Homo sapiens: one gene and its partners. The protein of the gene in region 2 purifies or fractionates together with the protein of the main gene of each other region. This does not show direct contact. Each region holds a gene or a part of one and is shown on either strand. Other genes may lie near its edges.

Region 1 (4,173 bases), about 27 Mb from region 2:
GGCATCCCTAGATGTCTTTCATTTTGTTTCAGGAAGAATATTGACAAAGGTAGTGATGGGAGGGTTATTTCAAGGATGCTATTTTCATGTGTCCAAGTAAACTTAAGATTCCTAAGAACTTTGACCTCTAATGCTTTTAAAGACCGTGTACCTCATGCCCATATGCACATTCAGTTAGAAAATAAATGTAGATTCTTTGGTGAATTCGAAGATGTGCTCATGGAGTGGCACAGCGTGATCTCAGTGTACACATGAAGCATGCTGATGAGAGCTTCTTGGATCTTGTTTCTTCAGGTGGACTTGCATTAAAGTGCTGTTGAATCTCTGCACTGGGAGTGGGAGCAGCCATGCGATGGGTGCCTTAATCCGAGTGCCATCCTGGCTCTCTCCAGGCTGCTTCATTTGCTGTGAGGGGTAGGGGGAGGAGGAGTTTCCAGGCAATGGCCTTATCTGTTCTGGTGGTTGACCAAGGGTCGGGGGTCCCAAAGGTGGAGTTCCAGGATGAGAGTGCACCCTTGGGGATGGTACTTAGAAAGAGTGGGGACTAGGCCTCAGCCAGGGAATGGTGGGCCAGGGTGGAGCTCCTTTGTATCAAGGAGTTAGGGCCAAGGGCCATGCAGGTGGGCCTGCAGAAGGTGGGTGGTGATATGGCCTTTCTGGTGATAACAGACTCGTGGCACTGTTTTCCTGGGGCTGTTGGGGTTGCATGGAGCAGATTCTTACTCAGGCTTACTGTCTTAAGGAGGGAAGAATGCTTTTTTATGAATACGCATAGGTCTGTGGGGCTGTGGAGCCTGGGGAATCCGAGGCTGGCGTGGGAGTCTGGGGCCCTCTAGCGGTGGTGGTGCATCCTCAGCTCAGTGCCACTCACTGTCCCTATTTCTCTCTGTCCATTTCTCTCCTCACTGCAGTGCTTCCTCTCCTTCCTAGATTTTTTTCTCTAAGTTTGACTATTCACCACCCCAGAGACTCTGTTCTATCCCATGACCTCTTGCTGTACTTTCTTTCAAATCTAAATTTTCTTGATTATTTTTCTTAATTTACAGTTTCAAGATTAGATCTGTTGGGAGCATTCTGTGCTCTACCTCAGCCCCTGGTTGAGCTATGGATTGGTGTCCCCCATGGTGACGTGGTCTGGACTCCCTTTTGTGTGAAGAGCTGTGGCAGGGCAGTGAGGTTTTGTGGAACTCAGGGAGCATCTGGCACTATGTATGAGGTTGTGAGGTGGGAGAGAGCTCTTAAATCTACCAGCCTTGTTGATCTTGGGAACTAGGAGAGAGTGCTAGGGAAGCCAGTGCCAGCAGGCCTGGAGCCTCATATTTCTTTGGCATTTGTATGATACCTTCTAGTACTTCGTTTTTTGACTTATATATGAACTAACTCAATTTAGATGCTTAGAAAATAAACGGCCACTGGACCTGCAAGAGATTAGTAGTGGTGTTCCATAGCCTTAGACATTTCTTACACTTTTATCCACAGATAAGAAAAAAATAGTGATATTTGATTTGTTTTGCCAAGGCTTAGAAGGATCTAATATGTGTTACTCGTTGAGCAGCGGGAAGCAGCAGACATTTCTAGGGTTTCTCCCTGTCACCATTCAGGAGACAGTGCACACAATCCCCTTGGCTCTTACCTGAACACTGACCACAGGTCTGTCATTGCAGGCTGGGAGTCCTCCGTCAGCATCAGCTCCGGCTCCGGTGTCCTCCTTCTCTCGCACTTCTATCACGCCATCCAGCCAGGACATCTGCAGGTAACACTCTGCTTCAGATGCTGCCATGATCAGTGTGCAGCCAGAAATAAGCATTAGTGTCTGTAGGTTCTTGAATTTCCATTTGCTTAATCAATCTGCCTTTGGTCTAAACAGTTGGCGAGTTTTATGTGTGGTTTGCTCACCAAGTTACCCATGCTAGTCTCATTTCTTCACTATGATGTCTATTCTCTTTTAAAATTGTTTTTACTTTCTGTGCTTTTATCCCACTGTTCTGCATGCAGTTCCAGTGCAGTGTTTTCTGAGTGTTGTCACCACAGTTCCGTGCAGTCTGCTGTTGTCTCGAAAGCTCCTCACTGCCAGAGTTCTCTGACACAAGGGCTCACTGTGACAGTTATCTGTAAGGACACATTACAGGCGTCAAAGAGAAATTCCTTTGGTTCAGAATGGGCCCAGGCCTTGAAGCCTGCTAAGAATACCAAAGCCAGAAGAACACTAAAGTTCTCAAGGTCCCTCAATGATGTGGGTGAGAAGGCGCAGGATACTTCAGAAAGTTTTGCCTATGTGGAAAGAACTTGTTCTGAAGGGAAATTAATACTCCCTCAAGATACGTGTCTCAGAACTAACAGGTTTCATCATAAAGAAAAAAGAACCCTGAACCACAAACCTCTTGGCAATTCCAAACATTCTTGTGTTTCATGCCTTTCTGCCGGTCGCTCAACTGCCTCAGAGGTGGAAGCTGGCAAGGGGGGCAGGCCCGGCCTGCTGCTGGAAGAGAAGGCGGATGGTGAGGCCACGTCCCGAAGCCGGCAACTGCTCCAGTACCTGTTCTCACTCTCGCACGGCTTGAGCGCCAGCAGCCTGCACAGGTTCCATGAGCTGGAGAGCTGCGCTGCTCGCCTGCACACTGCCAAGTCCTCCAGCGGGCTGGCAGGGAGTATGGGCTTCTGCTCTGACGAGATGGGAGACGACGATGTCTTTGAGGACAGCACATCTGCAAAACTGAAGAGTAGGGTTCTGCGGGCGCCCCTCTGCTCCACGGAAAAGGACAGCGACCTGGATTGTCCTTCTCCCTTCTCTGAAAAATTACCCCCCATATCTCCCGTGTCCACGTCAGGGGATGTCTGCAGGTTGGTTTGCCAGGAAGTGCCATTCTAGCCATCTCTGCTCGCATCAGGAACCTCCTCTTGCTTTAGTATGTGAAGTTTCAGGAAAATGAAGTAATAGGAAGTTGTAACCAGTTGTGGGTTGATGGTTTTCTCCAGAAGAATGGAGTATCAATATCGTTTGAAAAACTTAATTTTTATGATGTGAGTCCCAAGATAGTTTTACAAATGATAAAAGAGGAAGAAGCTGGCTGGGCGCAGTGGCTCACGCCTGTAATCCCAGCACTTTGGGAGGCTGAGGCGGGTGGATCACCTGAGGTCAGGAGTTTGAGACCAGCTTGGCCAACGTGGCGAAACCCCGTCTCTACTAAAAATACAAAAATTAGCCGGGCGTGGTGGCGGGCGCCTGTAATCCCAGCTACTCAGGAGGCTGAGGCAGGAGAATTGCTTGAACCCGGGAGGCGGAGGTTGCAGTGAGCCAAGATTGCGCCATTGCACTCCAGCCTGGGCAACAAGAGTGAAACTCTGTCTAAAAAAAAACAAAACAAAACAAAAAAAAAAAGAGGAAGAAGCTACACATATTAAAGGCCAAGCTGACTCTTCTAAACTAAAAATAAGTAGACTTTGCATAAAGAAACTGGAAGAAAGAAACTAGTATCTTCAGTTTTCCAGCCTGATGGTCCAGATTTTAAGCATTGTTGCATCTCCCAGCCTCTTTTTTAACCCTTGCTCCCTACCTACCCCCAAAAGGTGTGTGGGGACTGGCTGTTCTCCAGTAGCTCCTTCCTTCCTTCTTTTTAACTGAGGTGTAGCCACCTATGTCCCATCCTAACTCTGTTTCCCCCCTTTATCTTCCCTTGTGCAGCATCCTTGTCTGGCCTCCATAATTCACTTTTTGTCATGACTCTTGTGCCCTCCTCATTCTGACCTTTCTCCAGTCTCCGCTCCTTAGTGCCAGCTGTCATCATTTCTAACATTTGGATCAGAGATCCCCTCACTAAAACAGCCTGAGAGCCTGGCTCCTTCCAGGACGAGTGCCCCAACCTGTTCTCTAGCTGCTGGAAAAGACCCCTCTGTTTCTTAAAAGCCTGTTAAGTTCCTTCAGGCTAGTAGCTACACCTTGTTGCATACTTCCTTGGAAATAGAGAGTGCTTTCAAATTAATTTCTCACTTATTGCTATTAGTGGTCCCAAGAAAAAGAGATGAAATTGCAGCATCTTGTAATGGTGAGTTTTTTAGGTCTAGGAGAGAGGTACTGTCATCTTTGTTTACTTGCTGAGAGACGACAGAAATGTGTAGTTGTGGGGTATGAAGGTAAAGTCAGTGATTATAGCTAAAAAGCAAACGTCATTTAAG
Region 2 (4,919 bases):
CAAAAATGAATAAATTTAGAATCAGAAGTACTAGGTTCAAGTTCTAGCATTACCACCTAGGATAACTTTGAAGAATTTACCATTCATGGTCCTCAATCTCCTTATCTGTAAAACTGGAAGTGTATTATATCATTCATAGGATTTTAATGGAAAACATGGTAGATTGCAAAAATGTAATTATGTACAAATGACAGAAAATTTCCACAAACCTTCTGAAGTTCATCAAGTAACAGATTTTTCACATGTTGTACTGAGGCTAAATGTGTATTCACTCTGACAGTTGTAAATGATGGAGGATGTGACAGGTGCTTTAACAAAGTTTCAAACTTCCTTTCTGCTTCTTGTTTACCTAAAGCAGTCACAATCTAAAAAGAAGTTCATGTTTAAATTTCCTGAGAATTAAAAACAGTCAGCAGAGCATCCTTATATATTAATTCCATCTAATGAAACATCGCTTAGCAATTGTTCAGCTCCATTCTATTTTGCTGTATTGTTTATATGTTAATAGCAACTAAGGAAATAGTAATACTTCACGGGGTTCTTGGGCTTCAACATGGTAATAAACACCTAAGAAAATGCCTGAAATAAAGGGCTTAGAAAAACATTGCCTAAACTTCAAAGCATTATGAACATTTTCCAAATATTAGTATCTGCTACATTTATTCACATAAATTCAGGAATTCAGTCTATTTATAATGCATTACCATTACAGCATCTCTGTAGAGCTAGCATTATATCCAAGTTAGTTGGACGTTAGCTAATTAGCTAACATCATATCCAAGAGCAAACTGGCTGGTATCCTTTTAAAATACCAATATTTAAAAAATAAGTAATATTGATATAGTCACTGTCATATAAAGATTCCCCTAGGACATCAGCTTTTTAATATGGTGTTATTAAATGTAACAAATATATATTATCCAAAAAAGATGAGTAGCAAAGACACCTGTCAAATATGACGGTATAAAGACTCAACAATATTCCCTTGTAATTAACCGAAGCTTTTCAAGAAACGTATTTCTTTGTCTTCCTATTTGACTAAACCCTGCTTTACAGAATCTTCACAAACCACTTGTTAGCCTACTCATGCACCAGCCTTAAAAGTATTCATACTTTCTCAAGGTTTAGTCTTATCAAAACTGAACATTCAGCCTGGGCAACATGGTGAAACCCCATCACTACAAACAATACAAATATTATTAGCCAGAGTGGTGGCCCCTGTCTGAGGTCCCAGCTACTCGGGAGGCTGAGGTGAGAGGATCACTTGAGTCCCAGAGGTCGAAGCAGCAGTGAGCTGTGATCATGTCACTGCACTCCAACATGGGCAACAGAGGGAGACCCTGTCTCAAAAAAAAAAAAAAAAGGCATAAAACTTAATATTCCTTTCCCTTCAGTACTTTTCACAAAGGCATAGCTTTTCATTTTGTAAAACCATACCACTGATGAGACTCGAGGCAGAGGCAGTGTCAAAGAAAGACGTTTGGATCTTCTTTATAAAACGACGTTCTCCATTTTAAAATCTGCTGAAAAAATTGTGGTATGCCCCTACTTCTCCTAATATGTGCCTTATATTTTAAGTCCCTTGAAATCAACAGAATATATTTTCTCTTTCCATACAGTCTAGTACCTCAAGCTAATCTTTGGAAATGAAACGTAGAAATCAAATCTAAAAGGCATGGCTTCAATAACATATTCAAAAATGAGTAACATTTAAGTGGTGTTACTCTAACTAAGAAAACTAAAGATTTCAAAAAAAACAAAGTTGCTTAGAGGCAACATGGTAAAGTGGTAGAGAGGACAGGCTTTGCAATAAAAGACAATCAACATTTACTGAGGACTTCTGTGGCAGGCACTGCCAATTGCAAACAAAATTAACATTTTTTGAAGACTTACATGCCAAAACAATGCAAGTTGTTTTCATTTACGTTTAATATCCTAAAACAACCTGGTAAAATATTTTTAACTTGACTAAAAAATTAAAGATTTGAAAAAAAACAAAGTTGCTTAGAGGCAGCATGGTAAAATGGAATAGACAACAGGCTTTGCAATCAAAGATAATCAACATTTACTGAGGACTTTAGCAAATAAAATTAACATTTTTTGAGGACTTACATGCCAAAACAATGCTAGTTGTATTCACTTACGTTTAATATCCTAAAACAACCTGGCAAGATATTTTTAACCATTCTCAATTTTTCACAGAAGAGAAAAATCTAGGTTAAGCCACGTAATTTACAAAGCACTAGAATGCAAATCATGTGCCTGAGATTCAAAAGCTGTACCTTTGTTCATTACACCTGAACTCTTTCCCTCCAGATTTCAATAGTTACTTGATAGCTGTGTCAACTTGGATCAGTTACACAATTCCTTGAGCAGTTTTCTGCTCAAGTCTATTAAAAGAGGAAAAACCTCTAAGAAAAAAAAGATTGTGAAGATTAAAGATGCAAATCTCCTAGCACAACTGCTGGCATTTAAGAGGCACTCAACAAATTACAGAAACCTTTTCACCTGAGTGCCAGAGCCAGCGCTCTTTTAAAATTCGATTCGAGTTCTTGAAGACAGGGACCTTTTCTTGTTCATCCTTGTAACCCTTTGTGCCATGCCTGACAGGCACATGCCTTTTTTCCCTTCTTTTCCACTCCTAAATGTTAAAACATATACCTTATTCACTTCGTATCTCAGTAAGCTTTAATACCTGTAGAAACATATTGGTATTTTTACACTTGATAGACAAGTAGTAAGGAACGACGGCTGTCAAGATTTCCCTTTATACTTATTTCTATTTCTCTCGAGTGTGCGAATATTTGAGTTTTTGCAAAATATCAACTAACATCTTTACTTGACCTACCTCCTTATTCATAAAGCCTTCCTTAAGATAGTTTTCAACCTCAGGTCTCAAAGATATCTTAGGGAAAATAGACATTTTTCCTGTTGTTTAGTTCTCCACCAAGAGAAATGCTGGAAAACGGTGTTTTGTTTTTTTTTTTCTTTCCGAATTAATAGTGACGAGTGTCTTGACACCAGATGCTGAGGAAAATCTTGCCGATCACGCTGAGTTAATTTCGGAAATGCAGAGGTACACGCTTTCTCAAGCCTAGCCGATTAGAAGGGGCTGCCGGGCTTCCACCACACCTCATCGAGGCAATGTTTTCTGGTAGAGATGCTCATGGAAATCACTGAGCCAATGCCACTCACGTTGCAAAGAACCAAAAAAAGAAAAAAATGCTTAGTAACTGAATCCGTGGTGAAACGGACGCAGATCAGTAAGCCAGGCTGACAGCAGCTCGGTCCCTTTATCTTTTCTATCAATTTCCAAACACGCGCCCCCTATTTCTCGGCGGAAAGTCGCTTCCGGCTTACGTCACGTCCGGCGCCTGCGGCCCACCCCTCCCTTTCCGGTCCCCCAATCCACAGCCGCAAGTTTCCCCAACACTGCGTTACGCTACGCCACGCCCCCGGAGGTTCCTAACCCTGCGTGAGGCTCTTTCACCTGCCTCAGGTTAAGTAGGCAGACCCCGCGGGCGGGATGGTCAAAGATATTTAGTTCCCGGTACCGGAGGGCTAGGTGCCAGGGGCAATGGGGAAACAGCCAAATGGCGTGGGTTGAGTGGAAGATGTTGCTGGACTGAAAAAAGGCACAGCCCAGTTGCTGTCCTGCCAGATGTCCTCCAGTTAGAGGATGAGGCCAGAATTTGGGCGCATCAGCCACCGTTTGATTTCATGACATGATTTTACCTCTCTCAGGCATACAGATCTGACTTCAGTTGTGAAGTTCATAGGGTTCATATTTTTGAAAGTTGGGCTAATGGTCTGTTAATATCCAATGCTCAGGTAAAACTTAAAACCCACAGACAGTGTTTACAGTTAGTTATAAGGCTAACTGCTACTTGTATCATAGTTGACATATTCTTTAGAGTTTGGAAGACCCTCGCCATTATTTTTTTTTCTTTTTTTTCATCATAAGCAGACAAGGATATAGATTCAAAGAACGAGGATATCTAACCAAACTCACTGAGTCATTTTATAACTGTACAGGAAAGTCAAAATAATTCTATCACCTTGACATATGTTTTTTGCAGCACACCATGGTAATTTACACATAAGTATAGGAAAGGGTTTTTTATTGTTTTTTTCTCTTTAATTTTCACACCGAATTATACACACAGACACACACACATAGAACAGGTACTTTCCATGACACACCAACTCTTTACCAGAAAGAGTAGAAAATAATGAATGACCATTATACCACACAACAACCTGCAAGTTGTTTATCATTTTCTCTGCTCTTTTTTTTTTTTTTTTTTTGAGTCTCTGTCGCCCAGACTGGAGTGGAATGGTGGGATCTCGACTCACTGCAACCTCCACCTCCTGGTTCAAGAGATTCTCCTGCCTTGGCCTCCCGAGTAGCTAAAATTACAGGCATGTGCCACCAGGCCCAGCTAATCTTTGTAATTTTAATAGAGACGGGGTTTCACCATGCTGGCCAGGCTGGTCTCAAACTCCTGACTTCAACTGATCTGACTCTCTAGCCTCCCAAAGTGCTGGGATTACAGGCGTGAGCCACCACGCCCAGCCCATTTTCTCTGTTTTAAAGAGTAAATCAAGGTTCCTAGGGTTGAAACAACTCTCCATGTTCTCACAAATAAAAAGCCAGGATAAAGACTAGTAATTTGGCTTCTAGAGCCAATACCTTGTCCTTGACCATAGCATATTTCTTCAATAAATCCATGAGATTCTTTCATGGCTAAAACATCTGAAAGTGATAAATGTCTAAATCAGACATTTCCAAAGGAATTTCTGTAGCCTGAATTTCATGGTGACCATAGCACCACTGATGGCTAGAATCTGTATTTTAGCGATAAAGGAGGAGAAACAAGTTGAACTACATTTTAAACTCCACAAGGATAGAGACTTTA
Region 3 (4,614 bases), on a different chromosome or scaffold from region 2:
TTTATCAATCATGTTACAAAAGAGTATTTAATATGAAAAGACACTGATAAGCTTGTTACAGGGACAAGGGAGATGCTGAGTCAACACAATACAGTGTGATCTTTCGGTGACTTTAAAACATTGTTGAATTGATTGTATTTGTTATAAAAATAATGTGGAAAATAACAGCTTTGAATTTTATGTCAGTTGATGTTAAGATCCAACAGGAAGTTTACCCTGATAACGTTAAGATGAACAGTTTGAAAGCAGCTTCCTGCTGGAAGTTGAAATAGAGATGATTCAGATAGCCTCTTTGGATCCAAACCCCAAAGCTTCTTTTGCCTAATTCTATCTTCTGTCTTTAGAAACTCAAGCCTCGACTGGGCTCGGTGGCTCACGCCTGTAATCCCAGCACTTTGGGAGGCCGAGGCGGGCGGATCATGAGGTCAGGAGATTGAGACCATCTTGGTTAACACGGTGAAACCCCCTCTCTACTAAAAACACAAAAATTTAGCCAGGCGTGGTGTCGGACGCCTGTAGTCCCAGCTACTTGGGAGGCTGAGGCAGGAGAATGGCGTGAACCCAGGAGGCGGAGCTTGCAATGAGCCGAGATCGCGCCACTGGACTCCAGCCTGGGCGACAGAGCGAGACTCCCGTCTCAAAAAGAAAAAAAAAAAAAAAAAAGAAAGAAACTCAAGCCTCAAGCTGTCTGGGGGCATCCAAGTCCAACCATCCCAGTCACACACACACAACCGACCTTACTCATCCCAGGGGTGTGCAGAGGCCCACTGCAAGAACTGGTGAACTTTCAAGGCGTCTTTGCATATATGATGATTTTTTATTCTATTATTCAAGTTTTGCTTGGACAAGATTGTGCTGCTAAAAAGTGGCCTACACCACTTTTTTTGTTTTTGTTTTTGAGACAGGGTTTCACTCCCGTCGCCCAGGCTAGAGTGCAGTGGCGCGATCTCAGCTCACTACAACCTCCGCGTCCTGGGCTCAAGCAATCCTCCTGCCACAACCTCCCGAGTAGCTGGGACTACAAGCGCCCGCCACCATACCCGGCTAATTTTTGTATTTTTAGTAGAGACGGGGTTTCACCATGTTGGCCAGGCTGGTCTTGAACTCCTGGCCTCAAGTGATCCACCTGCCTCGGCCTCCCTAAGTGCTGGGATTACAGGCGTGAGCCACCGCGCCCGGCCCTACACCACTTTTTAAAAGTCGTGTTTCTTCTCTTTTTTATAATGTTGTACTTCTGATTTCTAGGGAATGATTAGCAAACTCACCCCTGACGCTATGTCCCTTGGACATTATCCTTGTATACACAAAAAGTGCAATTAACGAGTGGGTAGAAGTCAAGGGGTGGAGCCTCCGTCCTTGGGCTTGAAGCCAATGTCCCTCAATGCGCCTGCGAGACTCCCACGCCCTGGGAAGGATGCCTATCGATTCGCTCTGGGCTCGGCAGTTCTTTCTGATAGCAGGCAGCCATCTTGCCTGGAGCCTGAGAAAGGGAGGAGAGACAGAAGGAACCGGCGACAGTGGTCTCAGGGCCGCTCCGGGGGGCCTCAAGAACCGGAGGCAGCCCCGGAGGTGGTCCCCGATCCCGGGCTATGCTCTTGGATCTGAGAAGGGAAGGCGGAGGGCGGCGGGGACAAGATGGGTGGAGAATGTCAAGCAAGGAATGCTAGGCGGGGGAGGGGCGTTGCTATGGCGACTGGGGAGGGGCGGTGTCTGTTCTGAATCGCTGTGTGTCACCCGGGCGCTGCCCAGGAAGGGCAGGGCTGGGGTGATGACCATGGTAACACCCGGGGGGGAGTTCGTGACATCTCCGGCGCGGAGGGACTCGATGTCTATGGCAATGGTCGCCTGGTGGAAGGGACGGAACTAGATCCCTTCGCTCGGGACGCTCACATTCCAGGCCCTTGTCCTGCAGGCTGCCGCGGGCGGACACGCCAGAGGAGGAGGCCGGGGAATGGCCGCGGTGTGGCAGCAAGTCTTAGCAGTGGACGCGAGGTGAGGCGTGGGGTCAAAGCCCATGGGAGCAGAACTTACTGTGGTGCATGCGCAATGGCGATAAGTGAGGCTGGGCGGAGAACTTGCCTTATGCGGCTGCGTGGGCATGCCGGAGGTGAGCATGCGCAGTAGCGGGGGCGGGCACGCCCGCGGTGAGTTGGCTGCGCCGGAGAGGATTCTAAACAGCAAGCTGGGAAAATGTGGTCAGATGTGGGCATGCGCAAAGCGGCTACCTGTGAGAGGGAGGTGGGGCTCAGGCAGGTGACATCCTATCCCCTATGGGTGTCCCCTAGACTTTTTTTTTTTTACATCATCACTTCCCCATTCTGACCCCATCACCTCCCAACGCTGACCCCCATAATGTCAGTCTGATTTCTGTCGCCCTGGTATACTGACCCTAATTATTGTCTGCGCTGACCCAGTCACCCCGTAGGGACCCCAGCACGGCAGCAGACTGACTCTGTTGTCTGCAAACTGACCTCATGACCATGCTCATTATTACTGCAGACTCACTCCCACCACAGGACCAAGAGGTCCCTCATCACCACTGCTAGTCATTCTTACCACCTAGGCCCCAGTCACTGCCACACACCTCACTCTCCTGCCGTACCCCCCCCCCCGAGCTGATTGATTCCCTCTGTCCTGTGCCTGCTGCCTGCCCTGCATCCTGACCCTGCAGGTACAACGCGTACCGCACACCAACGTTTCCACAGTTTCGGACGCAGTATATCCGCCGGCGCAGCCAGCTGCTGCGGGAGAATGCCAAGGCTGGGCACCCCCCAGCGCTGCGTCGGCAGTACCTGAGGCTTCGGGGGCAGCTGCTGGGCCAGCGCTACGGGCCCCTCTCCGAGCCAGGCAGTGCTCGTGCCTATAGCAACAGCATCGTCCGCAGTAGCCGCACTACTCTTGACCGCATGGAGGTGAGCTTCTGGCCACATTCACCCCCGGGCATACCCTGCCTGCACACATTCACTCCACTGACTTTCATCAAGCACCTGCTCTTTGCTGGGCACTGTTCTGCATCAGCAGAGGACAAAAAGATAATATGCCAAGTAAACCAGTAAACACACAAACTTTGTAAACAGGTCAGTAAACATATAGCAAGCCCTGTCTTTAGTATCTGCTGAGCAGGGGGAGGGCAGGAACAGCAGAACTCGTGAGGAAGCCACTGCAGTAGTACAAGTGGGCAGCGGTGGTGGTGGCAGGGGACACAGTGAGAAGTGATCTGACTCTAGGTAGATTTTCAGGGCTCCACACCTCAAAGGTTCTCGGGCTTTTTGCAAGATGCACCCACCCTGACCCTCTCCATTTGCAGGACTTTGAGGATGATCCTCGGGCCCTGGGGGCCCGTGGGCACCGTCGTTCTGTCAGCAGAGGCTCCTACCAGCTGCAGGCGCAGATGAACCGTGCCGTCTATGAGGACAGGTATGCACCAGAGGCAGCCAAGGCGGGGGGCGGGTTGCGAGGAGGAGAGGGGCCCTGGGGCAATGGCAGACTGAACACTCTCGCATCTACCTCCTGTCACCCCTCACTTCCTATTGGGGCCCAGGCCCCCTGGCAGCGTGGTGCCCACGTCAGCAGCAGAGGCAAGTCGGGCCATGGCCGGGGACACGTCACTGAGCGAGAACTATGCCTTTGCGGGCATGTATCATGTTTTTGACCAGCACGTGGATGAGGCAGGTGAGCCAGTGGGTAGCGGGTTCCATCACCAAGCGTTTGCCCAAACTGTGACAACCAACCAAGGCATCCTTTTCTGAATCCAAGGCCCCTGGCACACTCCAAAGGAGGAATGACCATCCATAAAGCCTTTTGTAGACTGAAAATCCCTCTGCAAAGTGGTCAGTGCTTCGTCTACTGGAAAGGGCCTCAGAAGCCTAAGAGAGAGCCCTTTGCAGCAGGCTGCCTGGGTTCCTGAGTCACTTGGAAGAGTTCAAAGCCTTTGCTGATGATAAATCCCCTTGCAGAGGGCAGAGTGGGCTACAGTGTCAAGGGTTTTGCAAATTGCCAAGACCTTGATTATAAAGTGTTCGCTAAGACAGGAACTTTTTCATGTTGCAGAAGACTTTTGCAATCTGCAAAGGAGCTGCTAAGACTTAGGGAGCTTTGGCAGAGGGTCTTCAGGGGTTACAGTTCCCTTTGTCAGCCAAGGAAAGCCCTTTGCTGAGGCCACTGTTCCTCATGCAGTGGGGCCCCAGCCCCAGGCACACACGTCAGAGCCTTTTAGAGAGAAAAGTGCCCAGTGAGTGTGCAGATTCCCACTAATGGCTTCTTGGCATTGCAGTCCCAAGGGTGCGCTTCGCCAATGATGACCGACACCGCCTGGCCTGCTGCTCACTCGACGGCAGCATCTCCCTGTGCCAGCTGGTGCCTGCCCCACCCACAGTGCTTCGCGTGCTACGGGGCCACACCCGTGGTGTCTCCGACTTCGCCTGGTCCCTCTCCAATGACATCCTCGTGTCCACCTCACTGGATGCCACCATGCGCATCTGGGCCTCTGAGGATGGTCGCTGCATCCGAGAGATCCCTGACCCCGATAGCGCTGAACTGCTCTGCTGCACCTTCCAGCCTGTCAACAACAACCTCACTGTGGTCAGGCTCCAGGACACCCACTCACCAAGGGCT
Region 4 (4,173 bases), on a different chromosome or scaffold from region 2:
AAAGGAAAATGTAGAAAAACCTAAAACAGAATTCCTGGACTAGAGTGTCTACCCTTGCATCTGTCAACATTTCAATCATATGAGAGCCACTTTGAGATTAAGCAGACTTAAGCAATCTAGTTCAATAAGAAAAATTTAAAATGTTCACAGATGAGGATGTCAGACTATTTTTAAATGTGTCTAAGAAATCATTGACCTTTCTGGTAAACCAACTCTTAATAATCTACATGGTATCTTTGCGACCTTTAGATAAGGTTTAAAAGCCTTTACTCCTCAAGTCCACTAAGGTTTTTCCCAATATGCACCAATGCCTCTACAGTTACTAAAAAAACACTTTTATTCTTTGAATTATATTTATATGAATTTGTGAGTGTGAAAGGACAATTATTGCTAAAAATGTAAAATTATCCATAAACTACGGCAAAATTAAGTGAGTTCTCGTTTTTGTGTCAAAAAATAGAATGTCTCTTTATACTTCATTGCATTTCAGAATGGTTTTGAAGTGGCTTTAAAAAAGTTTTTAAGATACATTTAAATATGGAAGCAAAGAAATTGAAAAAGAAAAGCTAAAAAATTGGGTCCAAATTTAACTCTGATCTTCCTAGGATCTGATTCAAGGATGGAAACCCAATCTGTTTTGTGATTCATTGCTAGAACAAAGAGGGAGAAGTGGGAGAACCACAGGCTGAGGAAAATTTTTCCAGACAGATAGTGTCACTTCATGTATGACAACATTTCTAACAATATTCCTCACAGAAATTATAAAGGTGAGTTTTATAGGGTTAACACTGCAAATATTCTCTTCAGTTAACCCATTTATGCCTAGTGTTCCATTATTGGAACGCTAAGCTTGTGGGAGTTCTTCATATCCTGCTGTTTAAGGTCATCGCCAAGGTCTGATTTTTCACACAAAAAATTTGCTACCTCTGGCATAAAAGCAGGAATAGTATACTGGCAAAGCACAGTTTAGTACAAAGCAATTCCACAAGCGATCAAAAGGATATGAGCTCACTCATCATCTGGCCAGCCCCTCCTGCATAAGTATTTACTACTGTCAAGCTTTTGATAGGTATATATCAAGCAGAAACGTGTGGCAGTTATACAAGAACCTGGAAGTAGATACATCACACTGTGGAAGAAAAGCAGTCATGTAAGCTTTAATCACTTGCAGTGCTACCAGAAGGGCTGGCATCCTCAGGAGCCTGACTATGCTAGACTAGCTATCTGAAAAAAAAAAAAAAGTAAAAAAAAGTTTTTACTTCTATACAGATAGCCAAAGAGGTATCAGGCCTAGATTTTCATCAAAAATGGTTCTAGCAAGTTCTTACAAGGAACAACTAAATAATATGTAGGTTCTAAAGAATAATGTAATAATTAGGTCAATTAGATTTATCTATTTTCCCCCCTTGGTAGTACCTTTTAATTCCGTATTTTGGAAAAATTTCTCACTTCCAAGGCCGTGAAACTTAATGATCTTCCAAAGGGCTGAAATTCAACATATTCTTTTATAAAAAAGAACTTTCTTCAGCCTTCCTGAGAAAACCAGGATTTACAATTTTAACAATTTATGTGATTTTAGAATATCCACTTACGGGCCAGACGCCATGGCTCACATCTGTAATCCCAACACTTTGGGAGGCCGAGGCAGGCAGGTCACTTGAGGTCAGGAGTTTGAGACCAGCCTGGCCAACATAGTGAAACCCTGTCTCTACTAAAAATAAAAAAATTAGCCAAGCATGGTGGCAGGTACCTGTAATCCCAGCTACTCAGGAGGCTGAGGCAGGAGAATCGCTTGAACCCGGCAGGCAGAGATTGCAGTGAGCAGAGATCACGCCACTGCACTCCAATCTGGGCCACAAAGAGAGACTGTCTCAGAAAAAGAAAAAAAAAAAAAAAAAAAAAAAGCATATCCACTTATGGCTGTTTATTTTCCTAGTTGTACATGTGAACAAAAAATACTTTTCCAAGAAAGAAAGTCAACTTAGGAACCACAGAGGGAATCGCTGGCCCATGAGACAATGTCCTGGAGACATATTTGACGGGAAATTGGTCTAGTCATAGTTGAAGAGCAATCTCACCTCTGCACATTTATGGACAGTGTCAGGACCTACTCCACCATCGACCTCTATATCCAAAGATGGGAACTGGGTCCTCAACCAGTGAACCTAGATATATACATGAGGAAATAAGTAACTCCTAAAGTGGGTATGTTGGTGGGGGTGGGGGTGGGGGACAATCAAACAAAAAAATCCAACAGCAAATATTAGCAATTAAAACTCCAATTGTCTCACACAATAACTATACCAATACAACATATTACTGGGGAACACTTGGTTTTTAATAGCAAGCTTTGTTCTATTTGGCAAACAGCAATCTGTATTGTCTTTGCAGAGACTGTCATGTAAACAAGACAGACAAATCCTCAATAGTCAATGACAACTTCCAAGAGATCTAAAAGTTAGAGATAATAGTTTCAAAAGGAAATTTCAAGACTTCCAGGCGTGGTTGGCTGCCACCTGTAATCCCAACACTTTGGCAGACCAAGGTGGGAGGACAGCTTAAGCCCAGGAGTTCAAGACCAGCCTGGGTACGTAGTGAGACCTCCTCTCTACTAAAATGTGTAAGAATTAGCCGGGCATGGTGGTATGCACCTGTAGTCCTAGCTACTCAGGGGGCCGAGGCAGGAGGATCTCTTGAGTCCAGGAGGTCAAGGCTGCAATGAACCCTAATTGAATTACTGCATTCCAGCCCAGGTGACAGAGCAAGACTTTGTCTCAAAGAAAGAGAAAATTTCAAGATAAAGATGTAATACTTCTCTGATTTCCAAATCAGAAATCTATTACAGCATTTATTATACTGTATTAGAATGATCTGTAAGCATCCCCATCTCCTCACCTTCAGAACAGGTTATGCCTAAATATACAAGCCTTTCAATAAATGCTTACTGAATGAACACACTGTAAAAGCCTCACCCCAAAATCAAATACTTCTTTTACCTTTGGCATCATATCTTCCATGAATTTCTGCCCTCCAAACCCCGGTTCCACTGTCATAACCAAGGCCATATCTATCTGATTAGCCCATGGTGCCAAATACTCAACTGAGGTTCCTGGTTTGATGGCAAGGCCAACCTGTAACAGACACAAATATGCTATATCACATTTACAATTACTTCTGTATTATATTATTGTGGCATAGCAGGCCCAGTAGAAATATCTGTTCTTATTTTTTAAAAGTTAACAAGACTATTAAATGTAAGTATTTTCAACAAGCAGTAGCTTTCAGAAAACTTTAGTGGAATACATAAATGCTATGTGACAAAGAAGTTAAATCCTGGCATCATAGCTGAAGAACAGCTGCTTAAGTAAGGTATTCTTTACCTGCAATGGGCCCTGACTGTGCCACTGCACTTCAGCCTGGGTGACAGAGCAAGACTGTATCAAAAAAAGAGAAAATTTCCTGTTTCCCGCAAATCTTCCCAACTGAGAGTGAATGTTACAAAACACTCTCATCACGATTTCTTACCTTCATCCCATTCTCCCGAATGTCTTTAATCAAAGCCCCTGGGTTCTCAGTAGCCTCGAGATGAAAGGTGTACTGATTGGCTCCTGCTACAGCCATTGGCTTTACCCACTGTTCTGGCTTGGACACCATCATGTGCATGTCTAGAAAGAAAAGACACTTCAAAATATTACTGAAAAATACCTGGCTCATGTTATTGGAAGCCAACCTGTATGTAGTTTTTGCCACTTCTGATAAGAACTCTTTGGCCATCACACAAATCATTATTTAAATAGTTCTAATTCAGTATAGGTAGTTTCCTCTTATTTTGAAGACAAGGATTTATTTAAATTCATTTACAAAAAACACTATTTTCCCACAAAAAGCATACAGTGCTGTATATAAAAAGTTAACATCTAAAAATCAGGAAATCTAGGTCCAGGTCCAGGAAATGCCACTCTAAAAAACTTAAAGAATAAGTCATACTATCCATGCAAACTAGTTTCCTCTAGGAAAAATTAAGTGATCCTTTTCATTTATTCTTTCAATTTATCGAGCTATTGCTGCATCATTAATTATTCTAGGTCCTAGGGTTAGAGCAAAAACATGAAACTCTCCTGTCATAGGGATTACATTCTTAATGCGAGAGTCAAACAATAAACAAAATAAGTA

The links.
Region 1: the proteins of NSUN6 (region 2) and MARCHF8 purify together in Homo sapiens (affinity purification with western blotting; one study listed by BioGRID). This does not show direct contact.
Region 3: the proteins of NSUN6 (region 2) and WDR13 fractionate together in Homo sapiens (co-fractionation; one large-scale study listed by BioGRID). This does not show direct contact.
Region 4: the proteins of NSUN6 (region 2) and RPE fractionate together in Homo sapiens (co-fractionation; one large-scale study listed by BioGRID). This does not show direct contact.

What each region holds. Positions count from the first base shown.
Region 1 is NC_000010.11:45,461,819-45,465,991, reverse strand, and holds part of MARCHF8 (E3 ubiquitin-protein ligase MARCHF8), read left to right. Parts: intron 1-1,633; exon of another isoform or gene 1,634-1,664; coding exon 1,665-1,753; intron 1,754-1,995; coding exon 1,996-2,841; intron 2,842-4,173. UniProt on the Homo sapiens protein: E3 ubiquitin-protein ligase that plays several important roles in innate immunity and adaptive immunity.
Region 2 is NC_000010.11:18,648,281-18,653,199, forward strand, and holds the start of NSUN6 (tRNA (cytosine(72)-C(5))-methyltransferase NSUN6), read right to left. Parts: upstream 3,308-4,919; 5' UTR 2,924-3,307; coding exon 2,849-2,923; intron 366-2,848; coding exon 210-365; intron 1-209. UniProt on the Homo sapiens protein: S-adenosyl-L-methionine-dependent methyltransferase that specifically methylates the C5 position of cytosine 72 in tRNA(Thr)(TGT) and tRNA(Cys)(GCA). In vitro also methylates tRNA(Thr)(AGT).
Region 3 is NC_000023.11:48,596,046-48,600,659, forward strand, and holds the start of WDR13 (WD repeat-containing protein 13), read left to right. Parts: upstream 1-1,446; 5' UTR 1,447-1,569; exon of another isoform or gene 1,570-1,912; 5' UTR 1,913-1,951; coding exon 1,952-1,992; exon of another isoform or gene 1,993-2,671; coding exon 2,672-2,912; intron 2,913-3,307; coding exon 3,308-3,417; intron 3,418-3,541; coding exon 3,542-3,672; intron 3,673-4,273; coding exon 4,274-4,581; intron 4,582-4,614.
Region 4 is NC_000002.12:210,015,465-210,019,637, reverse strand, and holds part of RPE (ribulose-phosphate 3-epimerase), read right to left. Parts: intron 3,666-4,173; coding exon 3,526-3,665; intron 3,435-3,525; coding exon of another isoform or gene 3,381-3,434; intron 3,132-3,380; coding exon 2,997-3,131; intron 2,166-2,996; coding exon 2,079-2,165; intron 1,849-2,078; coding exon of another isoform or gene 1,751-1,848; intron 1,486-1,750; coding exon of another isoform or gene 1,420-1,485; exon of another isoform or gene 1,417-1,419; intron 1-1,416. UniProt on the Homo sapiens protein: Catalyzes the reversible epimerization of D-ribulose 5-phosphate to D-xylulose 5-phosphate.